Linked DNA regions of Homo sapiens. The protein of the gene in region 4 purifies or fractionates together with the protein of the main gene of each other region. This does not show direct contact. Each region holds a gene or a part of one and is shown on either strand. Other genes may lie near its edges. The genes, in order: DCAF4, NAF1, SHQ1 and NOP10.

Region 1 (8,493 bases), on a different chromosome or scaffold from region 4:
TACGAGCTGCGCGCCATGGAGTCACTGAAGGTCTTCAAGGAGAAATGGGCCCTCAAGTTCATCAAGAAAAGGGTGGGGACGCACATCCGTGCCAAGAGGAAGCGGGAGGAGCTGAGCAAGGTACTGGCTGCCATGAGGAAAGCCGCTGCCAAGAAAGACTGAGCCCCCTCCCCTGCCCTCTTCCTGAAATAAAGAACAGCTTGACGGAAAAATAAAATAAAAATAAAAAATATTTTTGTAGAGACGGGGTCTCGCTTTGTTGCCGCCCAGGCTGGTCTCGAATTTCTGGCCTCCAGCGATCCTCCTGCCTTGGCGCAGCGTTGGGATGACAGGCGTGAGCCACCACGCGCGGCAGCAAATCTGAGATTTAACACAGAGAGCCAGTATGTGCCCAGCGTATGTGTATGTAGTGCACAGAATATGTGGACCACCCTCTATAAAGGTTCATGCATGAGGAGGTCGGCTCTCTCTCACAGTCTAGCAGTTTTCCACACAAAAGCGGCACACATTTTTGCACCGGTCTCCAAAATGGTGTCTGGTTTGGGAGCCCGCAGCTTCCGGAATTACAGGCTCTTTCCTGCTTCCAGGGCACCATTCCAGGCCTGGCCTCAATAGGCCCAAGGCGCAGGCCCAGAGGAGGCCGGGCGGGGTGGGGGGCGGGGTGCGCTACACCCAGTAGGGAGCAGCCCCGGGCGTCCGTGCCGCCCGCAGTGCTGGGACGCCCAACACCGACCAGCCCCGGAGCCAAGTGTGGGGGATGGCAGCCCGCACACATCGGGGCTGGCCTCGCCTCCCCTGGGAGGTAGGCTTGACAGCACAGGGGGTCGGTCCAGCCTTAGCACGGGGCCAAAACTCAGAATGGGGGAGGGGCTCCATCTCCCCTTGGGGCTCTCCAGTTTGGGGGCCTCGGGGCTGTTCTGGTTTCCAGGCTGAGCCTCACCATCTTGTTTAGCACATGGTTAGGGGGCCTGGACTGGAGCCCAACAACCGGGGCTCTGAGACTGGGGCACCCTGGGGCCGCGGGGTTGCTTCTTGGGTGGATGAGAATGTTCCAGAATTAGACAGTGGTGATGGTTGCACAATCTTGCCAATATAATAATAAAAAAACCCACTGGATTGAACCCTTTTAAAAAAGTTAATTTTAGGGTATGTGAACTATATATATATATATATATATATATATATATAAAGGATGTTTACTACACCATGCTGTAATAGTTAAAGTGAGAAACATCCTAGATATCCAACAACAGGGGAATTTTGTAAGAGTCTGTAGACTGGCCGGGCGCGGTGGCTCATGCCTGTAATCCCAGCACTTTGGGAGGCCGAGGCGGGCGGATCACGAGGTCGGCAGATATGTGAGACCATCCTGGCCAACATGGTGAAAACCTGTCTCTACTAAAATACAAAAAGTTAGCCGGGCGCGGTGGCGTGCGCCCGTAGTCTCAGCTACTCGGGAGGCTGAAGCAGGAGAATCCCTTAAACCTGGGAGGCGGAGGTTGCGGTGAGCCGAGATCGCGCCACTGTGCTCCAGCCTGGGCAACAATAGTGAAATTCCGTATCAAAAAAAAAAAAAAAAAAAAAAAGTGGGGGGATTCTGTAGACTAGCGGGCTGTAATGTGCAAAACGCTAACGCCACTGGTCTGTAAAGCTGAATACAAAGTAGCTTCTACAGGCCAGGGCGGTGGCTCACGCCTCTAATCCCAGCACTTTGGGAGGCTGAGGTGGGAGGATAGCTTGAGCCCAGGAGTTCAAGACCAGCCTGGGCAACATAGTGAGACACCCCTCCGCCCCATCTTAACAAATAATTTAAAAATTAGCCGGGTGTGGTGGTGCATGCCTATAATCCCAGCAGTTAGGAGTTGTTCACTGTAAAACAACATTTTAGACAGCTGACTTAAAAAACAACAAAATTTTCTCTTAACACTTATTTAAGAAATACTTCAGGCGCAAGCTTTGTACTAACGCCCACCCTGAGTTGGTATTTTCAATCCTATTTTACAAATGAGGAAACAGGCTTACAGGACTAGGTACCACACCCAGCGTAAGTTAAATGGTGGAACAGGGATTCCACCTCTGTTGGTAGGACCCCCAGGCCTGGTTACCCACAGAACACCACCTCAGGCCGGGCGCGGTGGCTCACGCCTGTAATCCCAGCACTTTGGGAGGCCGAGGCGGGCGGATCACGAGGTCAGGAGATCGAGACCATCCTGGCTAACACGGTGAAACCCCGTCTCTACTAAAAATACAAAAAATTAGCCGGGCGAGGTGGTGGTCGCCTGTAGCCCCAGCTACGCGGGAAGCTGAGGCAGGAGAATGGCGTGAACCCCGGGGGCGGAGGCTGCAGTGAGTCGAGATCGTGCCACTGCACTCCAGCCTGGGCGACAGCGAGACTCCGCCTCAAAAAAAAAAAAAAAAAAAAAAAAAAAAGAACACCACCGCGACTCTAATTTCCATCGTTATTTAAAATCAGAGTTTGGGACTTTGGAATTGTTTCCTCTAGGAAGCCGTCCCCTCAGTTTTCTTTGCTTCTGGCTGCGCTGCTGGAGTCACAAGACAATGCCTGTAGAACACCATGGTGAAAGGCGTCATGGTTTCTGAAGCCCCCGGGGAGCCCACGAGGCGTGGCTTTCTCGCTAACTCACAACTCAGAGTGGAGGCGAGGGCCAAACCCAGGCCCCATCACTTGCTAGTTGTGCGCTACCCCGACGGACAACCAAACTGCACCCCTTTCTGCGTCTGACAAGGACATCATAGCGCTGGCAAATGTTAGCGCCTGTGAAGCCGGCAGCACAGAGCCGGCCACTTCGTAAGCTTCAACCACACCTAACCTGTTATGCTGACCTGAACATTCACAGGGGACACCGCCCCAAGGCCCGCAGCCCAGCCCCCGCCAGGTGTCGGGTGGGGCCTTCAGCAGCAGGTCTCAGAGAAGCGCTTAGAGAAACGCCCTCAGCGGCGACACTCGGGGTGCCCTCCCTGCGTGTTTACGGTTGCAGCACTGATCCGGCCGGAGGGCCCCACGCGCCCCAGAACGGGCGGAGCGCGCCGGCCCAGCTGCCACCTAGGCCCGGTGGCGCCGGCGTTCCACGTGCTCACTCCTCCCCGCCCCTCCCCGCCCCTTTCCCTGGCCTTCCTCGCCGCGCCTGTCTCCCACCCCGAGCTCTGCAGCGGGAGCGCGGCAGCCCTCGAATCGATGCCAGTAGGCACCCCAGGCAGCACAGTCTTACCTGTTCAGCGTGTCCCTTCCGGATTCCCCTCCGGCTCAGCTCTGCAGGAGTTGGAGCGAAGCGTGCAAGGACCCGGAAAGACCAAGGTGTAGCGTCAGCCAGTTAGGTGGATGCGTTTTGGTGTTGTAGCAGCCGATAGGGCTATAGCGGCCGTTCTTTCCTTCTCACTGGACGCGGCTTCTGTCTGTCGACGTCAATAGGGACGATCTCATGAAGAAGGCGGGGAGTGGGGCTTCGGCTCCTCCCAGGCCTGGCCTGTCTGGGGCGGATGCACGTGGAGGCTGGTCATGGAGCGCTTGGGGGTGGGGCCAGGCGCACGCGGGGGCGGGGCCGGGGGCTGCTCCCGGAGCAGCGGAACTGTCTGGAGACCCTTTCGTGAGAGACCGTGTCTTCCTCCCTCCGCAGGGTGATGCGGCCCTGGAGAAGTCCTCTCGCTGTAGTGGAAAGAGCGAAGGAGTCTGTGAGGCGAGGGACAGAAGTAACGTGATGTTACGACTGGCGGCGAAGTCTTCGGCAGTGGCCTCAGGCGGCCGAGGCCGCTGCCCTGGGTCTGCGTTCAGGGTGTAGCGTAGCGAGCCCTGACCGTGAAACCGGGGGGCCTCCGTGTTGGCTCCAGTACTGCTGCTTGCTGTGGGACCTAGGGCGAGTCTCTTCCCTTCTCTGTGCCTTGATTTCTTCTGTTGAGAGAAGGAATCGGATCTATCATTCTCATGTCCTCTCCAGCTTAGAGTTTGTTCAGACCACCAATATTTCTAGAATGACCTATGTGTGCTGTGCCTGTCCCAGGTATCAGCTGACGGTTATGAGATCTTATGAAAGGAAAACGGAAGCCTCTGATGGGCTTGTGTCCCGAAGAGACAGTTTGTGAGGACAGCTGGATTCACAGAGGCTAGGCTTGTTGGGGTCCAGCAGTAGGCCTGGTGTGTCATGCGGCTCCGTAACACAGGCCCCTGCCCGCGGCTTGGACCCGTTAGAAAGCAGGCGGTGGGGTTCACCCATTGCACGCCGTGCGAAGGCATTTCAGCTCTTAACCAGGAAGCTAGGATTTCAGGCTAAACTCCTGGCTCTCAGGAGTTTATAGATAAATGCAGTATGTGGAGCGGGGCCGGGTGATGAGGGAAATGAGAGAAGTGGGCATAGTCAGAATAAAGAACCGCTTCATGAAGCTTGAGCGGCCTTGAAGAGAAGGCAGAGAAAAATTCTAGCTGAACAAACAACGTGACTGGAGGCCGGTTCAAGCCGGCTGGATGGGAGGGGAGTCTTGGAAGGAAAACTCAGCAGGGTGGGTTGGGGCTTGGTGACGCAGCAATTGCCAGGGAAAGAGTAGTCAGGCCGGGTGCAGTGGCTCACGCCTGAAATCCCAGCACATTGGGAGGTTGAGGCGGGTGGATCACTTGAGGCTAGGAGTTCCAGACCAGCCTGGCCAACATGGCGAAACCCCCAACTCTACTAAAAATACAAAAAATTAGCCGGGCGTGGTGGCGGGCGCCTGTAATCCCAGCTACTCAGGAGGCTGAGGCAGGAGAATTGCTTGAACCCGGGAGGCGGGGGTTGCAGTGAGCCGAGATAGCGCCATTGCACTCCAGCCTGGGTGACAGAGTGAGACCCTGTCTCAAGAAAAAAAAAAGTAGACAATGGGAGGCTCTGAGGGTTCTAGAGTTGGGAAGTGACAGGACTAGAGCTGTGCTTCTGGGAAATCACCGTGTAGGGGGTTGGGGAGAAAAGATTGTGGAAGTCAGCTGGGAGACCCCTAAGGAACTTATTGCAGCAACAGTCCTTGTGAAAGGTAGTGAGGGCCAAACCAGGGTGGGGGTAGCCAGGATGGAAGGGGGGTACAGATGGGAGGCAGAATTCAGAGGGAGAATCGGCCAGACTTAACTCTCGGGGAGGAGTCAAGCTGGATTTTCCACTGAAGAGCCAGGGGACACTTGAGGAAGGTGGCAGGAGGAGTTGGCTTGGGCTTGCTGAGTCAATGAGTGGCTGGCAGCCGGCCAGCAGGCTCTGTTGAATGTCCACAGAGGGGACAGTGACGTGGGCATGAGATATACCTCGGGGACCTGCAACACACACAGATGAAAGATTAAAGAATGTTTGCAAATCAGTGAACAAATGAAGCTTGCTGGGCCTTGGGCAAGTCATGAGGCATTCCAACCTCAGTTTCTTCACAGATTAGAATGAGGATAAGACATCTACTGAGAAAGGTTGTAAGGAGTAAGCGCTGATGATGGAGTACCTCACCCAGGACTTGGTGCACAGCGCCCATTGGTTAAGCACCCGCGATTATAAAGGTAGCATGGTATCTAGATGGTGTATATTACCTTCAAAAGTAAAAATTATTTTTTCATTTCATCTCCAGAATTTGAAGCCAAGGCAAATGTTGTAATGAAAAGGAATGAATCTATAGAAAGAGGTTGGAAAATATCTGGCACATGGCAAAGACTAAAACAATATATATATATTTTTTGTCTGTTTTGAGATGGAGTCTCACTCTGTTGCCAGGCTGGAGTACAGTGGCGTGATCTCGGCTCACTGCAACCTCTGCCTCCCAGGTTCAAGCTATTCTCCTGCCTCAGCCTCCCAAGTAGCTGAGATTACAGGCGCCCTCCACCATGCCTGGCTAATTTTTTGTATTTTTAGTAGAGATGGGCTTTTGCCATGTTGGCCAGGCTGGTCTTGAAATCCTGACCTCAGGTGATCTGCCCGCCTTGGCCTCCCAAAGTGCTGGGATTACAGGCGTGAACCACTGCACCCGGCCTTCAAATACTAGATCTTATTCATTCTTTCAAACTATGTTTTTGTACCCATTAGCCATCCCCACATCCTCCCATCCCCCAAAATATAAAATTTAAATGTTAATTTAAACAAATCAACATTTGTTTAAATCAACTGCAGAAGTTGTCCTTTTAAAAAAAGAAAAAACAGGCTGGGCGTGGTGGGTCATGCCTGTAATCCCAGCACTTTGGGAGGGAGAGGTGGGTGGATCATGAGGTCAGGAGATCGAGACCATCCTGGCTAACATGGTGAAACCCCATCTCTACTAAAAATACAAAAAATTAGCCAGGCGTGGTGGCGGGCGCCTGTAGTCCCAGCTACTCGGGAGGCTGAGGCAGGAGAATGGCGTGAACCCAGGAGGCGGAGCTTTCAGTGAGCAGAGATCGTGCCACTGCACTTCAGCCTGGGCAACAGAGCAAGACTCCATCTCAAAAATAAAAAAAAAAAAAATAAAAAAACACTTTTTTTTCTTATAGAGATAGGGTCTTACTATATTGCCCAGCCTGGTCTCAAACTCCTGGGCTCAAGTGATCCTCCTGCCTCAGCCTCCTGAAGTATTGGAATTACAGGCGTGAACCACTGCACCCAGCAGGAGTTGGCTATTTTAAGAGGTGACTTGTACGTAAGTTGCCACAGGAACTAGGATGCCTGTCAAATCACATCATGGAGACTAATCCAAAATAAAATCAATGCAAGAGAAATGTAATTAAATTAACATGCCCATTGTGGGGTAACAGTCCATCCAGGGCCTAGAAAAAGGATCATTTTCATCAGAATTTCTCAGTGTTTTTTCAGTAGTATCCAAGTGAGTGTCTTGGTCACTGAAAATCTTAATCTTTTTTTTTTTTGAGATGGAGTTTTGCTCTTGTTGCCCAAGCTGGAGTGCAATGGCATGATCTTGGCTCACTGCAACCTTCGCCTCCTGAGTTCAAGTGATTCTCCTGCCTCAGCCTCCCGAGTAGCTGGGACTACAGGCATGTGCCACCACGCCCGGCTAATTTTGTGTTTTTAGTAGAGATGGGGTTTCTCCATGTTGGTCAGGCTGGTCTCGAACTCCCAAACTCAGGTGATCCGCCCGCCTCAGCCTCCCAAAGTGCTGGGATTACAAGCGTGAGCCACTGCATCTGGCTGGTCACTGAAAATCTTGATATAGAACAATTCCCTAGTTCATTTCCTTTTTTTTTTTTTTGAGATGGAGTCTTGCTCTGTTGCCCAGGCTGGAGTGCAATGGCGCCGTCTCGGCTCACTGCAACCTCTGCTTGCTGGGTTCAAGTAATTCTCCTGCCTCAGCCTCCCGAATAGCTGGGATTACAGGCTCCCGCCACCACGCCCAGCTAATTTTTGTATTTTTAGTACAGCCAGAGTTTCACCATGTTAGTCAGGCTGGTCTTGAACTCCTGACCTCAGGTGATCCACCCGCCTTGGCCTCCCAAAGTGCTGGAATTACAGGCGTGAACCATCGCGCCCTAGCCTCTAGTTCCTTTGCTAACCTAATGAAATACCCAACAAAATTCTCTACACCTCTTTGTATGATTACGTATTCACCAAACTGCTGATGACTGACTCCATTATCATGATTTTGGAAAAGAGGGAGCCGTGGGTAATGGGCAAGAATATTCTAGACATCAGGAAGTTACATGTCTCAATAATTAACTGATCATATTCGTATTCTGTGTACTTGGGTAGACAAGCAGTTTCCAAGGATCTGGTCCCAATAACTTAATACACAAAATGTTGAAACCCATAAATCTGGGGACAAGATTTTGCCTCTAAAATACTAGTCTTAGCTGGTTAGCAGCCTGACCAATATAACAGTTAATAATGCATAATAATCTAAGAAAACTTGAGAAGCAGAAAAGCACAAAGTGAAAAAATACCCAAATTACCTGTGATAAATCTATCCCTCCAAAAAAACCACTGTTAATATTTGGATGTGTTTTTTCTAAGCATGTGTTTGTTCTAACTGTTTATATCTTTCAGTTATTAATTCAACAAATATTTATTGAGCACTTGGAATGCCAGATCTGTTCTAGGTGCTGGGAATGTAAGTACATTTTAAGAAAATTGTTTTTGAAAACAATCACAAACTAATAGAAAACTTCCAACTACAGAATTTTTCTTTTTCTTTTCCTGAGGGTAACCACTGACTTGATGTGTCATCAGTCTGGAATACTTTTAGTTTGTATTTCTTACAGACATAGGCATTCTCCTATGTATCCAAAGCATAGCCATCAAAACTGAAAAATTGACATTGATATACCACTGTCACCTAATCTTCAGCTCCATTCAATTTAATTCAATTGAATTTAATCTCCATGTCATAGAAATTGGTATTTAGAAGCCAAGACCTGAATGCTAAGTGTGCTTATTGCTATTACGGTATCCCTGTTCCAAGGCACTCTTCATGGTTACAGTTGGGAACACACACTCACACACTCCCACACTCACTGTGACATCTATATTTATTTGTACATCTATCAGTTTACCCACC
Region 2 (7,532 bases), on a different chromosome or scaffold from region 4:
TAGAATATCTGGATTTTGGCCAGGTGCGGTGGCTCACGCCTGAAATCTCAGCACTTTGAGAGGCAGAGAGGGGTGGATTACTGGAGGTCAGGAGTTCAAGACTAGCCTGGACAACATTGTGAAACCCCGTCTCTAATAAAAATACAAAATTAGCTGGGCGTGGTGGCATGCGCCTGTAATCTCAGCTACTCAGGAGGCTGAGGCAGGAGAATTGCTTGAACCCGGAGGCAGAGTTTGCGGTGAGCTGAGACCGTGCCACTGCATTGCAGCCTGGGCAGAAAGAGCAAAACTCCATCCCCTACCCAAAAAAAGAAAAAAAGAATATCTGGATTTTAAAAGAAATATGATTTGAGATGTTTATGAATCTCTAAACACGTTTAAAACATGTAATTCCAGTAATAAGATGCTATAGATACTCTAAAACTTAATTCAGAACATTAAGTGAATATTCAGAGCCTTAACTGAAATCACATAAATACATAACATTAATTAGAAAACATAATTCCATTTCAATTCAGATACTAAGCAAGGATCATTCACTGGTTAAGTGATTCATACCTGTATAGAACCCTCCAAGTGGGCATAAACCTGATTCATACCTCAGTAAAATTAGAAACACAGATCATGATTTACGATTGCTTTAAACATCTAAAATGGCCAAGGTTAAATCGGTAAGTATCAAAAATCTGTAATACTGGCTGGGCAAGGGGCTCATGCCTGTAATCCCAGCACTTTGGGGAGCCAAGGCAGAAGCTTGCTTGAGGGCTGGAGAATCACTTGAGGCCAAGAGCTTGAGACCAGCCTGGGCAACACACTGAGACCCCCATGTCTATATTTGTTAAAAAAAAAAAAAACAAAAAAAAAACTGTAATACTGAGAAAACTTCATAAGAACTGCTGAGCAAGCTTTAAAAACTCTCATGTATAATTTTTACTTATAAAAATATTTATATACATTTTTATTTTATACTGTATAAATACATGCTATTTTTAAGAAATGAATATATTCATTGTTGTAATTCAAAAAAAAAACCCCTCAAGATAATCTGCTTAAACACTTTCATGGAATGTTAACCAAGTAATCCTATTAAATCATTAACTTATTTACATATTATTCCTAAATTTACTTCACATCTCTAGGAAGACTAGATTATCAAGTCACCTTGGGGCATAAAACTATTGTTTTGCTGACATAGATACAAAAAGAAAATCAAGGTCTCTTTTTAGAAAGGTAGTTATATCGTAAAAAGTAGAGAGGTAGGTAGCTTCCAATGATCTTGTGCTTCCAATGATTCTGTACTTCCAAAAGAAGGACAGCTATTAAAAGCACCATGTCTTCATGTCCCATATGGTGTATTTACTAAACTCAATTAAATTTTTAAAAAATAATGACAGCCTGCCTTTATCAGACATCAACAAAGTTGACAAAAATAGTAAACTACAATGTAAATGATAAGGTGATAATTATTAAAATACAACTAAATGTAACTGAAAAAAGTTTTTTTCCTAAATGATCAATCAAAACCTTTCACTGAAAGGTATGAAATAGTCATCTAGGACGGTGAGAGAATACATGCGCTAGGACAGGATAAGGCAGTATGGCTGCTAGCCAGTATTAATGACTTCCCTAACAGCAAGAATGATAAAATTTATAAGATTAAGTCCTGCCCTACTTTATAAAATGTTGCATAAAAAGACTTATACTTACCTCTGGTGGTGGTTCCTGATCATTCTTCCATGATGCATCTGATCCCTTATCCCTGAGTGGGGTGGGGATGGGAGTCAAAAAAGTATTCATCACAATTCTATTAAGTGCTCATAACTTAAAAGTACAGAAAATAATAAAGTAAAGGACATGAGTTCAACCTTTAATTTTGCAATACAGTTATGTGTCTTTTACCTTATTTCAAAAGATGTGGGAAGCTCCTAAGAAAAACACAAAAGTTGAGCAAGTAGAAATATTAGGATTAGGGAACTGGAATGAGAAGCCAAGGCTATGGTGTGCAGTGGAAAGCAGATGGACAGCTCTTTTGATTTTTGTTTTCATAATATTTGCAGTTTTCACAAAACTCAGTTTAAAAAAAATGCTTATTTCACGCCAACTGTAGATCAGAAGTTGTTCCATGTGCGAAGGACATAAAAATGACTATGAGGCATTCCCTTTTCACAGATTTTACAGGTTTAATGGCAGAGATATCAATATGAATTATTTTCTCCTCAGTTTACCTGAGGAATGTCAGCAATCCTCTATGAGTAACCAAGGCTTATTCCAACACTGATTCTCAAAGCAGTGAGGGTCAAACAAAGGCTAACTATGAATAGTTGGAGGAAGAGGAAGAGAAGCTGCTTTAAAGATTCTGAAGGACAATATAATGACTGGCATGTGTGAAATGTGTAATTGCAGCTGAAAATCAACAACTTTTGGTGGAGAGTTTTACACTTTACATCCAACAAAAGTACAGATATCTATTATGAGCAGTATAATTTGTGAAAGCTCATTTTTAATCTTTTTAATTTTGTTAATTTCATAGTTTCAGCTACTATTTTGTTATTCCATTATGTTAAAATATCACAAAGTAAAATATTACAAAGTATTAGGACTAGATGTCCTTATTGTTTTAAACTAGATCTCAAAAATAAATGAGATTCCCAGGAATTAAGGCCATTAAAATCAATGTACAGATGTCAGTTTGCTGGCACAACATGAAAGTTATTAAGTTTGCTTTAAATTTTTGATTCGGAACTTTGACATTATATATGAGCCATTATCAATGGCTTTTCCATCACTTAAAAGAAAAAAGCATTTCCTCAATTGTCATTTCACACATGGGCCTTAAATATATCTCTGGTATTCCTTTCTGCACATATGACATCTCATGATCTGGACTGCTGTTAGCCTGGAATCACAGACATAAATGGGAAAAATTCCCCAACTAGTGCGTCTATTACAAAAAATCAAAATCTACTAAAGGAAAGATCAAGCAACATTTCAAAAGGCACTTTTAACAAGACAGTAAGTACATGAGAAACTAAGATCAAAATAGCCTCATTAGAGAACAGTAAGCTGGAAAGGAGCTGAACTTCTCTACCTCAAAGACAAAGTACTCCACCAAGTTCCCATGACAGATGCCAAAATGAGGTCTAGAATACAACAGTTTTCCTGGGAGAGGGAGGTTTCTGCAATATAGGTCTAATTTCCCAATTCACTGATTTACTACTGCTTCTTAATAGAAGAACTGCAAATCAAAACCAAAGACTGAGTCTATTATCTAAAATCTATTTAAAAACCATCTTCAGAAAACCTCTTCAAATTTATCTGTTTTAAGCTAAAATACTCTATTTGTTAAAAAGCTAAATATATGGCATATCCACAGCAGTATCTTTATATTCAAAGCAGGATGAAATGCTAAATATTTAAAGCATTTTAGAACATATTAATATCTTGAAGACTTTATGTGTATTTAATTCATCTTTCTTGTCAGTGTTATTTAAGAAAATAACCTTATGCAATGTGAAGAATAACTTAGGCAAAATATTCCTCCAGATCTTTATGTAGATTCTTAAACATGAGTTAAATCAATTATCAGGATCAAAATTTTCATCTCTGAAATAAATGAAATTTGGTGACTTGAGACTTGATTTAACATGTAAGTGGTATAAGTAATCTTCTTATGCCATGCAACTGGGGTTGGTACCTTTGACATAATACCAAAGTTACTCAGTGACCAAAGTTCCTTTGTTTTCCTGCAAAAACAACATCTATAAAAATGTATCGCCTAGGTTTTAAGTCTCCAATAAAAGAAGAGCTAGAACTAAAAGGAACTTCTGTGTCAAACTGAGTGCAAAGTCTTTCTGGATTTAACCTTCCCCCAGTCTTTGGCAGTCTTTTCTTCCACTCCCAATTTGAAAATATTTTTAGTGGCTCATATTCATTACATCATTCGAAAGCATTCAAGTTATTTTTATTAAAAAAAAATCTTAAATTCATATGCTATTTGCTGATATAAAAAATTAAATAACATAATTATAACAAGTTTAGCTGATACAAACAGCTCTACAACTAACAGCTGGCAACAGCTAACATTTGAAAAATATTCAACCAATGGGAGCACAAATATAAAAAAATATTGCGGTCACATGCCACAGAAATCACTTAGCATTATTGATAGACAAAATGGAGAGCACTGGTTTGTTGGTTAGGTCAACTCCATACACCGTAACTTTCTACACAATTTTTCAGGGACACGTGTTAGTTGTCTCTTCTACAAACTTAAAATTTATAAGCAAAATAAAGAGATAACACTCATTTTTTTTCTCTTGAAAACTATTTTAAAGTTTTATTGAAGAGCAAGGCCCCTAAATAGAATCCAAAGAGAATTTTACTTAACTGAAAAAAAAGTTATTAAGAAATGATAATAATATTAGTACTAATACTAAAATAGTAAGTACATTAAAGAATGTACATAATGGAAAAAACACTGAACTAGAATCAGAAAGTGTACATGGCTCAAATGTGCTCTTAATGGCTGATCATCTCATTTTTTACAAAAGATATGAATTCTACGTACAAAATCTGAAAATAAATTGTAGGCTTCAAAGATATTATTAGGAAGATAAATGAACTCTTTGCAAGACACACACAATATAACTGTAAGAAATTACATCACTGAGAATTATTCTTAAAATATAAACGTTAGGTAAGTGAAGAACAACATGCCGGTAAAGTACTTACTGTTTTAGTTTTTCTGTGAATATATATTGAGTGAAATCTTTCATTGATGGAGCAAAATACATAGTCTCCTTTATTTTAATACCTTTACTCTCAATGTGATCTGAAGAATTAAACCGTAACACATAAAATGGATGTGCAACAGGTCCAAATATCTCGAATATCTGTAATAGAAACATAAAGGCCTCTTTTAACATGTAAAATAACTATTTGAAAAGTCAGCAGTGTTTTCTTTTAAAAATCCCACTGATAATTGCCAGAACAAGGTAATTTTGTCAGTGTTAGGGCAATAAAATAATTTTTTAGTTATATTTATGTCATTTTTACATATTCAGTCTTCATATATTGATTAAAATGCACTCGCTCATTCCAGATTTCCCTTCTATGAATGTGAAACAATAGTAACAAGTTTGTTCCTCACCAAATTCAAATCATTTTGATGGTACCAACTCGATGCAAATTATGATTTTTTTAAATTATTGCTCATTTAACTTGTAAAGTACACAGAAAAGGATTATAATTGGTAACTTTTGAGAAAACTGTATACATTTGGAATCATCAGATGGGAAATATAAAAGCAAGCTTCTGACTTCAATAGGAGTTAAATCACTTTTGCTGTTTCCACAGTGTTAGGAATTTTGTAAAATTACAGACTTTTTCTAATTTAACAACTAATAAAGTAGAAGTTATTTATGTTTAAAAAACACAAAGATGGTGCAGCCTTTAACATTTAACTAAAAGAACTGCTTTTAGCAGAACCACATATTTTACTTCTGAAAACGTTTTAAGAATAATGAAAGGAAACTTCTTGGTTTCAAATTGTACTTTCTTCTCAAAATACGTGAATTAAAAAATATATTTTCTGGCTGGGCGCAGTGGCTCACGCCTGTAATCCCAGCACTTTAGGAGGTGAGGCGGGCGGATCACCTGAGGTCAGGGGTTCAAGACCAGCCTGGCCAACATAGTGAAACTCTGTCTCTACTAAAAATACAAAAATTAGCCGGGTGTGGTGGCAGGCACCTGTAATCCCAGCCACTCAGGGGCTGAGGCAAGAGAATCACTTCAACCCAGGAGGCAGAGGTTGCAGTGAACCGAGATTGTGCCATCGCACTACAGCCTGGGGGACAAAAGCGAGATAATATATGTATATTATAGAGATAAGACCATGATCAATGCCAGTATAGATTTTTCCAGTCTTTTTTCTATAATACGTTATTTTTTTCTTTAAGACCATACTGTAGTTTTGTATACTGCCCCCTTTTAAAAACCTAAAGTTGTTCCATGTTATATTCTTTGTAAGTATAATTTTAGCTATCATAAAACACCCCTTTACAGACTCAGGACAACTTACTTAACTTCTTTCTTATTGTAGGACATTTAGGCAGCTTCCAATTTGTTCAACATAATACATGATGCCATGATAAACATATATAAATCACTATACTTCAGACTTCCTAAAAATTGATTTGTAAGGAGTGGAGGTATTGAAGCTGAAAGTACGATAATTAACACTAAGGCATAAAAGTTTTAATGGAAATTACTAAATAGCTTTCTAAATAGCTTGGACCAATTTATACCAACTGCATTGAACATGGCTGTTTTATCACATCCTCAGTTCTTGATTTTTGATAGTAAATGCTCTTCACATTTTATGATTTCAGTACAGCACTGAATCTTTCATTAATTTTCATTAAGGCGTAAAACAGCTCACCTATCAGGGCACCACCATTCTGAAGATATGTGTACTCTAAAAAGAAGTAGTGACATTAAAAACTATTAAAATGCCAATGTATTATGAAATAACACTAATAGCATCACAAATTTAAAGCTTTAAAAAAGTGTAAAAGCAAAAAACTTTAAGAAAATAGCAAGACATCTGCTTTGAAAAGGTTTAGATAAATCCAGTAGACCTCGTCCAGTAAGAACTGTGAAGGACAGAAGAGGTGCACTCAGCACCACTCTTACTGGCCTACATGACATATATTATTGTAGTCTTACTTTCACTTAAAATTGTCTTAAAAACAATTCACAAGTTTAATTCTCTCACATATACACAAACCCAATTCTTCATTTGGTCAGAGATTTAAAAATATCTTTTAAGTTTCCTGTGTATCCATTAATACAAGGTAAAATAATCATCGTTTGCAACCTGGTACACAGACTGTTTCCCAGGGATTTGTTTCCTAGATAGCATGAATCCATTTCCTAAGTGTGAAAAACAATTTCAGTGGAAAAATTCCTTGCCAACTTCAGGTCTGTGCAGTATGGTTTGAACTAAAATATAAGTGACATTCAAAATTCTTGGACAAAAGCAAAGCATAGTATTTTAGTTGACTGTTCCTAGGTTCTGAAGTGTTTATGAGCCACAACTATAATGAAATCATTATAAAGTTTTAAGTAAAACAACATCACAGGCAGTAGATAACAGGAAGCCATACAATAGACAGTATGTGGCATGAGCCAATACTAATAGGTATGTTACAGGAAAACTTGACCAAGTTCACATAAGCAATTTGGCTAATCCAGAGTAGAAAAGAGGAATTTAACAATATTTTAAATAACCATTAGCCTCTGAGTGTAGAGTTTAGATTGACTAACACCTGAGAGCTAAACTGTAAAGAGCAACTTAAGACACAGCAAGGCTCAGGCCGGCCCACTTCTCCTCATACAGCTCCATAGGAGGCACCCATATCCCTTCTTGGTCATTCCACCCAACTTAGGGGATTCTGGAACTTCCATACTACCTGATTCAAGATAAAAGCAAAGGAAGTAATAGATTGTAAGGAGAGTATAAGAAACTGAAT
Region 3 (7,532 bases), on a different chromosome or scaffold from region 4:
CCCTTAGAGTTTTCCCAAATGCTCAGTTGTTTTTCCCCTACATTAGGGAATATTCATTCAAATTGTTTAGAAAAGCAATGCTCTTGCAATTAAAATTTGAAGAAGAGTTTAATGATTTTAGATGATTAAGCCATTTTAAAAGCTTAGAATAATAAACATTAAATTCAGTGGTTCATTTCCTTTTTTATTTTTTTGAGATGTAGTCTCACTCTGTCACCCAGACTGGATGGAGTGCAGTGGCGCAATCTCGGCTCCCTGCAACCTCTGCCTCCTGGGTTCAAGCGATTCTCCTGCCAGCCTCCAAAATGGCTGGGATTACAGGCATGCGCCACCACGCTCAGCTAATTTTTGTATTTTTAAGTAGAGACAGGGTTTTGCCATGTTGGCTAGACTGGTCTCAAACTCCTGACCCGCCTGCCTCAGCCTCCCAAAGTGCTGGAATTACAGGTGTGAGCCACTGCACCCAGCCACAGTGGTTTATTTCTGATGGGAAACAGAGGGATGTAAACAAAAAGGGATTAGACAGGAGTCAACTATATTGGTTAATGTTTAATGTTTTTAACCTAAGTAATAGATGTCTAGGTATTTGATACATTAGTTAAGACATCCAAAAAGAAAGTATAGCAGCTTAAAAAAAAAAAAAAACCTAAATTATTAAGTGAACATTTTCAAGATACAAGAATTTCTGACCTAAAAGGCACTCATTCTAGGCTCACATTATGGCATTCCTACAACATCTCAGCAACCTGTCAGAAATCTTTCAAAAGGATTTTCCGTAAACAGAAGCAACAATTAAGTAACAAATCCCTGGCCTCAAAGAAGCACTTCTAATGTAAATGTAAAATCCATACTTAGCCTGTGTGACATTTATTATCATTCATGTACAGCGTTAGATTGGCAAGCCCAAAACAGCCTGACCACAAACTATCTCTTGGCCAACAATTGAGGGCCATTCACTGTAGTTCCTGCTACAGACAAAACTGACTCTACTCTAATTACCTCTGAGATCACCAGCGATTGTGATCAAGCAGAGAATATGGGCAGACCACAACTCAGCAGAAAAACACCTAAGTTTTTAGAAGGAAGGCTATTTCACCAGCATTTGCTCCTAAGTAAATCTCAATGTTGTTCCCTTTAAGGAATTTTGAGACCATTTTATATTTTTCAAAGGCAGGAGTCTTTACAGCATTCTACACTTTCCAAAGAGTTTTCACATGCATTATCTTTTTAAATTTTCAAGACAGCCTTATAAAGTAGGTGGGCAAATTTATCTCCACTTTCCAAAGAGGAGACAAAACTTACTTGTGGTCAAATAACTGGCCTGGTATCCCAAATCTTAACAGAGGTAGGAGCGGGACCAGAACCCAGGTCTTTTCCCTCTCCTTCGTAAATTCAAATATGTCTTAAGATAATAAACCACATTCTAAACAGGTTTTGTTTTGTTGTGTTTGTTCTTTGAGACAGAGTCTCACACTGTTGCCCAGGCTGGAGTGCAGTGGCGAGATCTCAGCTCACTGCAACCTCTGCTTCCCGGGTTCAAGGGATTCTCCTGCCTCAGCCTCCTGAGTAGCTGGGACTACAGGTGGGTGCCACCATGCCTGGCTAATTTTTTGTATTTTTAGTAGAGATGGGGTTTCACCGTGTTAGCCAAGATGGTCACGAGCTCCTGACCTCGTGATCCACCCGCCTCAGCCTCCCAAACTGCTGGGATTACACGCACCACCACATCCGGCTAATTTGGCCAACATGGCAAAACTCCATCTCTACTAAAAATAGAAAAATTAGCCAGGCGTGGTGATGGGCGCCTGTAATCCCAGCTACTTGGGAGGCTGAGGCAGGACAATCACTTGGACCCGGGAGGCAGAGGTTGCAGTGAGCCAAGATCGTGCCACTGCACTCCAGCAAAGTGAGACTCTGTCTTAAAAAAAAAAAAAAAAAAAAAAAGAATAAATAAACAATAGGCTGGTCACAGTGGCTCATGCCTATAATCCCAGAACTTTGGGAGGCCAAGGCAGGCAAATCACTTGAGTTTGAGACCATCCTGGCCAACATGGTAAAACCCCATCTCCGCAAAAAATACAAAAACTAGCCAGGCGTGGTGGTAGGCACCTGTAATCCCAGCTACTCAGGAGGCTGAGGCAGAAGAATTGCTTGAACCCTAGAGGCAGAGGCTGCCATCAGCCGAGATCGTGCCACTGCACTGCACTCCAGCCTTGGCGACAGGGTAAGACTCCGTCTCAAAAAAAAAAAAAAAAAGAGAATAGAAAATGGTGCCTACTATACACCAAGAATTAGACAATTTGATCAAAACACACAATCTCATTCTCGCCAGGAACATTCTATTTCATTTATATACAGAAAAGAAGAGACATCATGCCGTAAGTACATGATCTCACTTTTCAGAAGTATAAAACATAAAGCTTTGCAGGAAGTATGAGAGAGGAGTTCTGCTTTGTACTTGGGAAACTTCATGTCTAGAATACTGAATAAAGGGGAGAAAAAAGAAAGCCACGGGGTGTCTGTAAGAGCAGTACAGTTAGGCAGAACAGCCAATGAAATGGAAGGGAATGCACATCTATGTACTTTAGCTGTGCTAAGTGCTTTAAATACAATCACCTCCTGTAATATTATTTTTAAAAACTACCAAGTGTAAGCATAACTGAAATTAAAATATCCAAATGGAAAAACCCTATAGATCAAGATCTTTCAGAAAGACAACATACCTGTAACCGTTGCAACACTCCTGATCGTAAGTTTCCAAATCCATAGTGGCACTGCGGATTCAAAGCACTTTCTGATACCTCTTCACAGGGTGTCTGCTCAATTTCCCAATCAAACTCTTCATCGTCAACTACTTCCTCAGGAATCTCAGAAGCACCTGAATGTGTTAAATTTTAATTTTTTTTAAGTATTGGATTTAAGTACAACTAGGGGAAGAAAAAGTATAGGAAAAAATGCCCACAAAGATGTACCAAAAGACATATACCAAATGTACTAAAAGAATATTCATAGCTCCGCTATTCGTGACAGCAAAAAAAAAAAAAGAACCAAAAATGTGGTATGTTCATACAATGGAATATTACAGAGCAATGAAAGCAAACGAATCTCAGCTAGAATATGAATAAATCTCACAAAAATAATGTTAAGTGAAAGCAGCCAGACAAAAAGAACACATACTGTATGATCTACATATGCAACGTAAAAACAGGCAAAACAGAGGATAGTGGTTACCCTGGAGAGAGGGCAAAGTAATGGAAGAATACAGGATGGTATTCTTCGGGTGTTGGAAATGCTCCATTTCTTGACAGAGGTGGTGTTCACTTTACATCAGTGGTTCCCAAACTTTTTGGCACCAGAGACCGGATTTGTGGAAGACAACTTTTCCACAGATCAAAGAGGTAAAGAGATAGTTTTGGGGGATGAAACTGTTCTACCTCAGATCATCAGGCTTTAGATTCTCATAGGGAGCACACAACCTAGACCCTTCGCAGGCACAGTTCACAGTAAGTTCATGCTCCTATGAGAATCTAATCTGATCTGACAGGAGCCAGAGCTCAGGCAGTAATACTCCTGGCCCTCCGCTCACCTCCTGTTGTGCAGCCAGGTTCCTAACGGGCCATGGATCAGTACTGGTCTGCAACCTGAGGGTTGGGGACCCCTGTTTTACGTAACTCACTTAACTGTATACTTCTGATCTTAGCTCAAGATGCTAATATTTTGCCAACCACAAAATGTTGTTTCAATTGGTCCAAAAATGTGAGTGATCTGGTTCAATAGGATTTTTAATGTCTTAATTATATCACCAAAGAAGCTATTTTCATATGGTTTCACATGATCACCTTATACCTGAAGTATTTTCTTCAATTTCCTATTCACTATATCCCATTTCCCCTACAAATACACAGCATTCCAAATATTTCTATTTATCCTAATTTCCTCCCAACTGTAATAAACATACCTATTTCTTCCACAAGTGGTTTTGCTGTCCTGGATTTTCTTGGTGCCAGAAGAGCAGTTAACATGTTCAGCCCCTCAAAATGCTGGCCAGGGGTTTCTTTGGGCAGGCGAATGGTAAAAATTCCTTAAAGATAAATTTGTTTTATGCTTAGATTAAAATATTTAAAAAGCTGGGCACAATAGCTTACACCAGTAATCCCAATACTCTGGCAGTCTGAGGCAGGAGGATCATTTTAGCCCAGGAGTTCAAGACCAGCCTGGGCAACATACCAAGACCCCATCTCTACAGAAAATAATAATAAAATCATTTTAATTAAAAGAAAAAAATAAATAAATAAAATAGTCAAAGACTTCACAAATATATCTGAGAAATACATGTCTTGGTAAAACATAATTCTATTTTACAGGCTCTAAAACTATGCCCTCATAGATTTGGTGAATACAAGTCAAGATAGAAAAAGGTTCTTAACAAGGGTTTTTCAGAAGCTGTCATTTCTATCAAAAATTATTAATCTGGCTGGGTAAGGTGGCTCACGCCTGTAATACCAGCACTTCGGGAGGCCGAGGCAGGCGGATCATGAGGTCAAGAGATCAACACCATCCTGGCCAACATGGTGAAACCCCATCTCTACTAAAAAATACAAAAATTAGCTGGGAGTGGTGGCATGTGCACCTGTAGTCCCAGCTACTTGGGAGGCTGAGGCAGGATAATCGCTTGAACCCAGGAGGAAGAGGTTGCTGTGAGCCGAGATCGCGCCACTGCACTCCAGCCTGGGCAACAGAGCGAGATTCTGTCTCAAAAAAAAAAAAAAAAATTATTTATCTGTGAAAGCTACAGAATACTTTAGTCTTATACAGTATGACCTTTACCTACTGATAATATTAAAAATCCAAGTTAAAACTTATAAAAATCAATGGCCTAAGAAGGTAATAGCTTAGAATTAACCAGGAGTTACTAATTAGACTTCTGGGAAAGGAGGAAAAAATCAGAATACCTAATCCAATGGAGAATGGCAACAGTTTTAAAAATACACAGAATCTTAGATACAACAATTATGGCTTAATAAGGTTTTCTGGCATGTCAGGAGATCTATCCCTAAAGTCTATGGCAGACTCAAATCCCTAAAGTCTATGTACTTCTTTTCTTTCCTTGACTGAGTTTATCTATCTTATTTAGGCTTCCCTGGGAACTTACTACATTATTTAGCACTTTGACATTTTAAAACATTTTGCCTCTTTCAGTGTACTGAACTGAATTCCAACATATCAAATACAACTCAGCCCAAATATCTCCGCATACACAATCTTCCTTAACTCCTGTGTACTTTAAAAATTTAATAATTTTGTTTCAATATGCAACTTACCTATAACTAAAAGCTGGTTTACTACCTAGGAAGGCAGTTTCACTATACTTCATTACACATTAATTACACTGCATTATGGGTTAGATCTCTGTCATTTAACCCACCCCCCCATACCCTACCCTTAGCCTAGTTCACTGAGGTCAATATTCATTGAATAAAGTACACAAGACTACACAAGGTGTTCTAAATCCGATGACAAAGGAAGCCAGTGGCTTCTATAAAGGAAAAATAAATGGGTTCATGGCTAGCTGAAATGAAGGGCTTATCAATCATGAGGAGAAAATTCAATTAGCCTTTAAATGCCACCCATGCATAGTTTCTCTCTCACCTACCTGTTATTAAAGTTCAAGTTTGAAAATTATACCAGAAAGATTCCATTCATAAGCTCATAAGTCATCTACATTTTTTATGATCAATCATTTCACATGTTCTAATTTTTACTTTTAAATGTCTACTAAATGTAGGGGAAGTACTCTAGGAAATAGAACCGGAGCAGTTAACTTTACTTTGAAGAACATTGTGAAATACTTTAAAAGACTTGTGAGGGGTGGGGAACATCAATAACAGGCACTGGACACTAAGAAACAAGAAAGAGTGATAGGAACAGATTGTATTTGAAAGACATCAAAAGGTCCCCATGGTATCTTGTAAGATTATTATGTAAATAATGTGAAAAATCCCAAGAAATAAACTAACAAAAATTCCAAAGACAATACCTTTATCTGCATCATAGGACCCTTGCTCACTTCCATTTTCTACAATTCTTCCAGGAAGGGTTAATCTGCAGATTTAACACAGGTCTCATGAAGTCCTTAAATTATAACGTAACATAAGTGGCCATCAATACTTGCAAACATTTAACCATCAAAATATATCAATCATTTTTTAAGAAGTTCCTCAGTATTTCTTTCACATTTTAATAAACTAAGTTAGATTCTTTCCCCAACCAAGAAAGTAGAAATTAGAGATGACTCATCTTTCTATTTGAATACCCCTAGTCACCAACAAAATAGATACTGAAAAAGAAAAGCCATAATAAATAGTAGTTATCACTATTGTTATAACACAAGTTGAGTATCCCTAATCTGAAAATCTGAAATGCTCCAAAATCTGAAACTTTTTGAGCACCAACATGACACCACAAAGTGGAAAACTCCACACTTGACCTCATGTGATGAGTCACAGTCAAAAAGCAGTCAAAACTTGGCTGCATACACAAAAGTATTAAAAAATTACATAAAACTATCTTCTGGCTATATGTATAAGGTGTATATAAAACAAATAAATTTTGTGTTTAAACTTGAGTTCCATCCTCAAGATATCTCATTATGTATGCAAAAATATTCCAAAACTCTAGAAAATCTGAAATTTCATATAAGGGACACTCAATCTGTACAGATAAGGGATACTCAATGGGAAACAATAAAGAAACACAAAACCAATTGATTTTATCAGGCAAATTACTACTTTAAAAAAAAAGCAGAAAGCAAAAGTGTCAAATCTCATCATTATTATGTAGGGATTTACCCCTCTTTTGTACTAAAAGAAATGAAGTGATTGGCTGGGCGTGGTGGCTTACGCCTGTAATCCTAGCACTTTGGGAGGCCGAGGTGGGTCGATCACCTTAGGTCAGGAGTTCAAGACCAACATGGCCAAAATGGAGAAACCCTATATCTACTAAAAATACAAAATTAGCCAGGCATAGTGGTGCACACCTGTAACCCCAGCCAGTCAGGAGGCTGAGGCAGAAGAATCACTTGAACCCAGGAAGGGGAGGTTGCAGTGAGCCGAGATCATTTGCCACTGCACTCCAGCCTGGGCAACAGAGTGAGATTCTGTGTCCAAAAAAAAAAAAAGAAAAAAGAAATGAAGTGATTTCCCTGCTTCCAGTTTTACCCTAGTTCAATCAGTCTTCCACTGAGGCTCCAAAATAATTTTTCTAAAACAGGAATCTAATTGTCACTTTTCTATTTTAAAAAGTGTCTATGGCTGCCTCATGTTGCCTAGATAATTTAAACTTATCAGAAGGGCATATCAGGCCCACTCCATATCATTCCAAACTTGAAATTTGAGCTTCCTTTCTTCCCATGGCCCTCCCCCTTGTTTCCTACTAAATATGATTAAAAACAAAAACAGCTGACAGTCCCAAAAGGCCCAGGACCTTTAATCCCAAGGTTTCCTCAAGCTTCAATACATTTTCAGAATGAAAAT
Region 4 (7,266 bases):
CTTGAACCCAGGAGGCGGAGGTTGCAGTGAACCAAGATGGCGCCACTGCACTCCAGCCTGGGGTACAAGAGCAAAACTCCATCTCAAAAAAAAAGAAAGACCCAGGCCAGGTGTGGTGACTCATGCCTGTAATCCCAGCACTTTGGGAGGCTGAGGTGGGTGGATCACTTGAGGTGAGGAGTTTGAGACCAGCTTGGCCGACATGGCGAAACCCTGTCACTACTAAAAGAAATACAAAAATTAGCCAGGTGTGGTGGCGTGCACCTGTAATCCCAGTTACTTGGGAAGCTGAGGCAGGAGAATTGCTTGAACCTGGGAGACGGAGGTTGTAGTCAGCCAAGGCTGCACCCCTGCACTCCAGCCTGGACAACAGATCTAGACTCTGTCTCAAAAGAAAAAAAAAGAAAGGCCCACCACTAAATCAATTTGAGTTCAAAGATAAGTTAATCAGGAGAAAAATCAGACTAAACAGGTTAAGTAACTTTCTCAAAGTTATACAAAAAGCAAATACTGGTCTTCTGACTTTCAATTCACTGACCTCTGTCTGTAATATGCCTATTACTTTTACAAGTACTCTTCCATTTTTAATCAAAATCTTATTTCAAGGGACAAGAAATTACGTTAAGTGACAACAGAGGTATTTTTCAGTGAATGCTGACAGCTGTGAAAGTCTTAATCTTTCTTCCCCAATACCCTCCTATCATGAACAGCACATGACCACTCTTGCAACAGCAGGACTGAAGTTTTTCTTCCAAGTGGTATTGTTGCAACTCTCTGGGGTACTCTCCTTTATCATCTCCCTCCCTTTAAAAAAATACTGCCAATCCTTTCCTCCAACAACTCACAAAATAAGAGTTTTTCAAATCATTTTATCTTTAATAATCTTGTAGTAATTTAAAATATGAGAAAAAAAAGTCAAATGTGTTCCCTTTATGGGTGATGCCACCATGATTGCCTCACACAAGCATAATCAATCGCCACGAGAGACTGGATGCCAAAGAGTATGGCTGGCAAAAAGGCATCAGGGCTCACAGTCCGAAGAGTTTGGTTACGGAGTCTCCGAGGGGTAACAGGTGGCAGAAAAGACATCAGTTTAAGGGACCCTCAGAGGACAGGGCGCGGTTGCTGGGTCATGAGCACCTTGAAGCGTTTCTTGATGGTGATTCGGTGTCGAGAGTATTTGTCATCTGGGGAGAACCGAGCAGGATGGGCTGAGCAGGTCTGTTGTCCCATCGGGTCAAATTTCTGCTCCAGGAACACAGAATGTATGTCAGTACAGGAGTGATGAAATGGGGTGGGGCCAGCGCGAAAAAGGGCAAACATGAAAATAGAAGATGCAATGGTCAACTCAAAAAGTTGTACAAATAAATAGAGAAATATAAAATTTAAAAAGGCCGAGCGCGGTGGCTCACGCCTGTAATCCTGGCACTTTGGGAGGTCGAGGCGGGAGGATGGTTTGAGACCAGCCTGGGCAATATGGCGAAACCTCGTCTCTACAACAAACAAACAAACAAAACCAACCAACCAAACAAAAAACCCCAAAACCAAAAATTAGCCGGGTATGGTGGCGCACGCCTGTAGTCCCAACTACTCGGGAGGCTGAGGCAGAAGGATTGTTTGAGCCCAGGAGGCGGAGGTTGCAGTGAGCCGAGACCGCACCACCGCACTACAGCCTAGGCAACAAAGCGAGTCCCTGTCTTTAAAAAAAAAAAAAAAAAAAAAAAGGAAAAGTGAGTGCAATGGCGCTATCCCGGCTCACTGCAACCTCTGCCTCCCGGGTTTAAGCGATTCTCCTGTCTCAGCCTCCCGAGTAGCTGGGATAACAGGCGCACACCGCCATGCCCGGCTAATTTTTTGTATTTTAGTAGAAACGGAGTTTCACAGTGTTGCCCAGAATGGTCGCGAACTCCTGAGCTAAGGCAATCCACCCGCCTCGGCCTCCCAAAGTGCTAGGATTACAGGCGGGAGCCACTGCGCCCCGCCAGAATTTTTTCTTTTAATTAAAAAATGAGTCGCGCGGTCCCGGTTCTTCCCCACCTCGGTTCTGGACTTTCTGGTTCCCCGCACCCAGCTAGGTAACTCCACGTATGACCTCACCCACTCCTCCCATCTACATTTCTCGCCATGCCTATTTACACCCTGTTTTCTCTCCTCACCTTCAGCGTATAGACTCGATCTCCCTGCTCGTTGAGGTAATACTGGAGAAACATGATCGCTTATAAGCCAGCGGTCCCAATTCGGTCCACCGCTCAGTCTGCAGTGGTCCGCCCGACCGCGTCACGTGTTCGTCAATTTCCTTCCTGCATAACCGGAAGTCTCTCTCTCCTGGCACTCCGGAAAATGTAGTCAATTTTTGCCTTGTTTTCAGCTAGCCAGAAGGGGGCGCACGAGAGCAGGGCTTGGCTTGGGGCCCTACTTGCAACTTTGCAGGCTAAAACACGTGGAGTGTCCCTACTGTGTGCTAGGTACACGGCGTTAGAGGGGGGTAGGGATGGATGTGGATAGAATATTGACGTATAGAAGCCTGTCTTTGTCTCAAGATACACACCCATTTCAGGAGCAGTGAGTTTTCAATGCCTGAAGAAACAAGGGCTCCAGGATTCAGAGCCCCTTTACCCTAGGGAAGAAAGAAGAGGTTTTCTTCCCTCCCCTCTTTTACATCCAGTTCCCCTGCTCCATTTCAAAGCGTTGGCGGTAAAGAATGCATGTTGAGTATCAATATTCCGTAAAGCGAAAGAGCGTAAAGTTATTTTATGAAACTGGTGAAGCATGTTTCAGCGGTCGAACCAAGATTTAAAGTTAGGTCCCTACCGCAAATTCAGCGCTCTTTCTTATGGTGGTGAGTAGCTAATAATAACGTAATAAAGTGCACCTTCTAGGAGTTTTTACAATTTTTAAAAGAATATAGAAGTTCTCCTTATAAGACTCTCGTTTAAAGAAATGAAAATGAGAACCAAAATATCATTACAAAGATCATCGTTACGCCATTATTTACAATGACAAAAGCATTGGAATATATATTAACTGTGTAACCAGAAAAACCTGCACTTTTTTTTTTTTTTTTTTAAGAATATGGTTTGGCGGGGCGCGGTGGCTCACGCCTGTAATCCCAACACTGGGAGGCTGAGGCAGGCAGATCACAGGTCAAGGGTTCGAGACCAGCCTGGCCAATCTGGCGAAACCCCGTCTCTACTAAAAATACAGAAAAATTAGCCGGGCGTGGTGGTGGGCGCCTGTAGTCCCAGCTACTTCAGAGGCTGAGGCAGGAGAATCATTTGAGCCGGGGAGGCAGAGGTTGCAGCGAGCTGAGATAGCACCACTGCACTCCAGCCTGGGTCCGTCTTAAAGAAAAAAAAATATGGTTTGTGGCTGGGCGCGGTGGCTCACGCCTGTAATCCCAGCACTTTGGGAGGCTGAGACGGGTGGATCACAAGGTCAGGAGTTCGAGACCAGCCTGGCCAATATGGTGAAACCCCCAAAAATACAAAAATTAGCGGGGCGTGGTGGCGGGCACCTGTAGTCCCAGCTACTCGGGAGGCTGAGGCAGGAGAATCACTTGAACCCAGGAGGCGGAGGTTGCAGTGAGCCAAGATCACGCCACTGCACTCCAGCCTGGGCGACAGAGCGAGATCCTGTCTCAAAAAAAAAAAAAAAAAAAAAAGAATATGGTTTGTATTTACTTGTAGTTGCATAAAAAATCTCTGCAAGTATTCACAAGAAACAGATGATACTGGTTTCCTCTGGGATAGAGAACTTAGTTGCAGGAGAAAGGGGTAAGGGTTGGGAGGCAGACTTATTGCTATGTATTTTATTACGCAGTTTGATTTTTGAACCTTGCTAATGTATTTATTACCTGTTAAAAATTTTTTAAAGGCCGGGCACGGTGGCTCACGCCTAGTAATCCCAGCACTTTGGGAGGCTGAGGCGGGCGGATCATGAGGTCAGGAGATCGAGACTATCCTGGCTAACACAGTGAAACCCCGTCTCTACTAAAAATACAAAAAATTAGCCGGGCATGGTGGTGGGTGCCTGTAGTCCCAGCTACTCAGGAGGGTGAGGCAGGACAATGGCGTGAACCCGGAAGGCGGAGCTTGCAGTGAGCAGAGATCACGCCACTGCACTACAGCCTGGGTGACAGAGCGAGACTCTGTTTAAAAAAAAAAATTTAAATCTAAGTAGTTAATTTTGTTAGAAAGGAAAATGATGATTTTAGCCTTCAGGTCTTTAGAAAAGAGAAAAGATATCTCAGAGGAAGCAAGAAAGATGCCATGAACCCCAGGGAAGGCCTTTTGGGGGAAATCCACGTTTGGATGAAGCTGTGGCTGTAGAGGATGCTCTGGGAGTTACTGGCCTGAAATAGTCGCCAGGAACCTTAGCAGATAAATTTTATTTTTAAAGTTTAAACCAAAATAATTTAACAAAAAGAAGGACTTTCTACTCTTGAAATTTTAAACTGCATGGCAGCTTTTTTATTTAGTGAGGCTTTTCAGCAAAGGGTAAGGCGTCTGTGGAGTACAGAGCCTATGTTAGTAGATTGGACAGCTTTCCAAGGAAATGATGTGCACACAGCAATCGAGCACCTTGGATCATCTGACAATTCTAATTTTAAACTTTAGTTCCCTTGATCCTTACGTGTATAGACCAATGTACTCTGAATTTAGTTCAGAAAATATAGCCATCATTGAATTAAGTCAGGGGTCTACAGTCAACCTGCTGTTAATAGGAAGTCAGTTACAGAACTGGCTGGGATGGAAGGACACAAAATGAGATATGTTGGTGAAGAATCGAAGTGTAGTGAACCAAACGGTAAAACTGTAATGTGTTGGGAATCTGAGAAAAAGTTTACAAATAGCCCTAAAGAGGCAAACATCAATTGTGTTGCCAAACTGTAGTTTGAAGGGAATTCCTGGTTTTTTCATACTTACTAGAACCCTTCATGGAATATCTGTCCCCACCCTCACCCCACTTTTCCCTCTCCCCTCCCCCACAGCAGAATGCCTTGAGTTCCGTATTCTAGTTCTGTGTGATCTGATCTTTACCTTCCCTTCCTTGGATCCCTGTGCACCTACTGGAGCCAGGTTACTCTGGGTCCTGGACCTGACTGCCTCATTCTGGAGGCTTCCAGACAGCCACAGTTAGTGCCCAAACCTGAGAGGATGGCTTCAGATGGAGGTAAGTCTGCAGGTGGTGAGGAGGATTTCTGGTACCTGCTCATATCCTTTGAGACAAGCTCTCTGGGCTGACCTAAAGGAATGTGAGGTGCTACACCCCGTCAAAGGTATCACACTTGGGGAGGCTAGGGAAGGAGATTGTACCTTTAAGACTAGGGGCTGGGGAAGGAAGAGGACTTCCTTAAGGACAGATTAAGGTGTCTCTGAGGACACATGCTGAGTATAGAGAAAGGATGGCAATTAGCAACTTGATTCTCTTGAACAGGGGACACTTCCGCATGTGTTTTTGTGGTGGGAGAGAGGATCAGGGGTATGTGTCTTAGGACTGGCACAGAGAGGTTTCAAGGGGGAAGGCCCAAGTTCATCTGTCTTTTTTAGGCAACTGGAGCCTGTTCTAGGATTTTGCCATGCTTGAGCTTATGAGGGGAAGGGGATGTGGAGGATGGAGGATGGGAGGGTAAGGTGGGAAGGACCTTAGTGGGAAAAGATAATCTGTAGTTATCTGTTGCAGAGAAATGCCTTCCTGAAAACTAGGCTGGAATGTATTATAAACTGCCTCTGCTTGGGCCGGGTGCGGTGGCTCATGCCTGTAATCCCAGCACTTTAGGAGGTCGAGGCGGGTGGATTACCTGAGGTCAGGTTTTTGAGACCAGCCTGGCCAACATGGCGTAAACCCCGTATGTCCTAAAAATACAAAAATTAGCTGGATGTGGTGGTTCGTGCCTGTAATCCCAGCTACTTGCGGGGCTGAGGCAGGAGAATCACTTGAACCCAGGAGGCGGAGGTTGCAGTGAGCTAAGATCGTGCTGCTGCACTCCAGAATGGGCCACAGAGCAAGACTCCATCTAAAAAAAAAAAAAAAAAAAAAAAAAAGCAGCACTTAGAGGCAGTGATGGCTTGGGCTTGTCTCTTCTTGGCAGATAGGGGTCTGTGTGTCTTGTTGAAAAAGAAGCAACTTCTTTAATGCAGTCATTCTCAACGAGAAGTAAGATCAAAATCACTTGGGGGACATTTGCAAACTATGCAAGTTCCCCATCCATATCCCCTCTTTCACCTGTTGAGAATCAGTGCTTTGAGTCTTCGGGTCTAAAGAAGAACTCAGATGGGGTGTGGTGGCTCACACCAGTTATCTCTGCACTTTGGAAGGCTGAGGCAGGAGGATCACTTGAGGCCAGGAGTCTGAGCCTAGCCTAGGCAACATAGCGAGACGTCATCTCTACAATTTTTCTTTTTTTTTTTTTGAGACAGAGTTTTCCTTTGTCACCGAGGCTGGAGCACAGAGGCGCAATCTCAGCTCACTGCAGCCTCAACTTCTTGGGCTCAAGCGATCCTCCCACCCCAGCCCCCCAAGTAGTTGGGACTACAGGTGCATGCCACCGCACCTGGCTTATTTTCGTATTTTTAATGGAGACAGGGTTTTGCCATGTTGCCCAGGCTGGTCTCAAACTCCTGGAGTCAAGCAATCCTTCCACCTTGGCCTCCCAAAGTGCTGGGATTACAGATATGAACCACCGTGCCCGGCCTCTACAAAAAAATTTAAAAATAAAGGAGGAATTCACCTGTAATCCCAGCACTTTGGGAGGCCGAAGCAGGCGGATCACAAGGTCAGGAGATCGAGACCAACCTGGCTAACACGGTGAAACCCCGTCTCTATTAAAAATACAAAAAGTTAGCCGGGCGTGGTGGTGGGCGTCTGTAGTCCCAGCTACACAGGAGGCTGAGGCAGGAGAATGGCATGAACCTAGGAGGCGGAGATTGCAGTGAGCCGAGATTGTGCCACTGCACTCCAGCCTGGGCGACAGAGCGAGACTCCATCTCAAAAAATAAAAATAAAAATAAAAATAAAAATAAAAATAAAAAAATGGGGAATTCAGATGGCTAACTCTGGTCTTCTTTTCTCCTACTCCATTTCTTCTTTTTCTTTGTCTCAACAGCATCTGCATTGCCGGGACCGGATATGAGCATGAAACCTAGTGCCGCCCCGTCTCCATCCCCTGCACTTCCCTTTCTCCCACCAACTTCTGACCCACCAGACCACCCACCCAGGGAGCCACCTCCACAGCCCATCATGCCTTCAGTATTCTCTCCAGACAAC

The links.
Region 1: the proteins of NOP10 (region 4) and DCAF4 purify together in Homo sapiens (co-immunoprecipitation; 2 studies listed by BioGRID and IntAct, with this or other methods). This does not show direct contact.
Region 2: the proteins of NOP10 (region 4) and NAF1 purify together in Homo sapiens (co-immunoprecipitation; 6 studies listed by BioGRID and IntAct, with this or other methods). This does not show direct contact.
Region 3: the proteins of NOP10 (region 4) and SHQ1 purify together in Homo sapiens (co-immunoprecipitation; 2 studies listed by BioGRID and IntAct, with this or other methods). This does not show direct contact.

The regions. Positions count from the first base shown.
Region 1 is NC_000014.9:72,921,281-72,929,773, reverse strand, and holds the start of DCAF4 (DDB1- and CUL4-associated factor 4), read right to left. Parts: upstream 3,311-8,493; 5' UTR 3,231-3,310; intron 3,004-3,230; exon of another isoform or gene 2,845-3,003; intron 210-2,844; exon of another isoform or gene 18-209; coding exon of another isoform or gene 1-17. UniProt on the Homo sapiens protein: May function as a substrate receptor for CUL4-DDB1 E3 ubiquitin-protein ligase complex.
Region 2 is NC_000004.12:163,135,492-163,143,023, forward strand, and holds part of NAF1 (H/ACA ribonucleoprotein complex non-core subunit NAF1), read right to left. Parts: intron 4,893-7,532; coding exon 4,732-4,892; intron 1,760-4,731; coding exon 1,708-1,759; intron 1-1,707. UniProt on the Homo sapiens protein: RNA-binding protein required for the maturation of box H/ACA snoRNPs complex and ribosome biogenesis.
Region 3 is NC_000003.12:72,838,322-72,845,853, forward strand, and holds part of SHQ1 (protein SHQ1 homolog), read right to left. Parts: intron 6,103-7,532; coding exon 6,038-6,102; intron 4,082-6,037; coding exon 3,959-4,081; intron 2,879-3,958; coding exon 2,724-2,878; intron 1-2,723. UniProt on the Homo sapiens protein: Required for the quantitative accumulation of H/ACA ribonucleoproteins (RNPs), including telomerase, probably through the stabilization of DKC1, from the time of its synthesis until its association with NOP10, NHP2, and NAF1 at the nascent H/ACA RNA.
Region 4 is NC_000015.10:34,340,864-34,348,129, forward strand, and holds NOP10 (H/ACA ribonucleoprotein complex subunit 3), read right to left. Parts: upstream 2,274-7,266; 5' UTR 2,211-2,273; coding exon 2,157-2,210; intron 1,246-2,156; coding exon 1,105-1,245; 3' UTR 856-1,104; downstream 1-855. Other genes in the region: NUTM1 (NUT family member 1), read left to right, coding at 2,834-2,839, 5,079-5,172, 7,106-7,266. UniProt on the Homo sapiens protein: Required for ribosome biogenesis and telomere maintenance. Part of the H/ACA small nucleolar ribonucleoprotein (H/ACA snoRNP) complex, which catalyzes pseudouridylation of rRNA.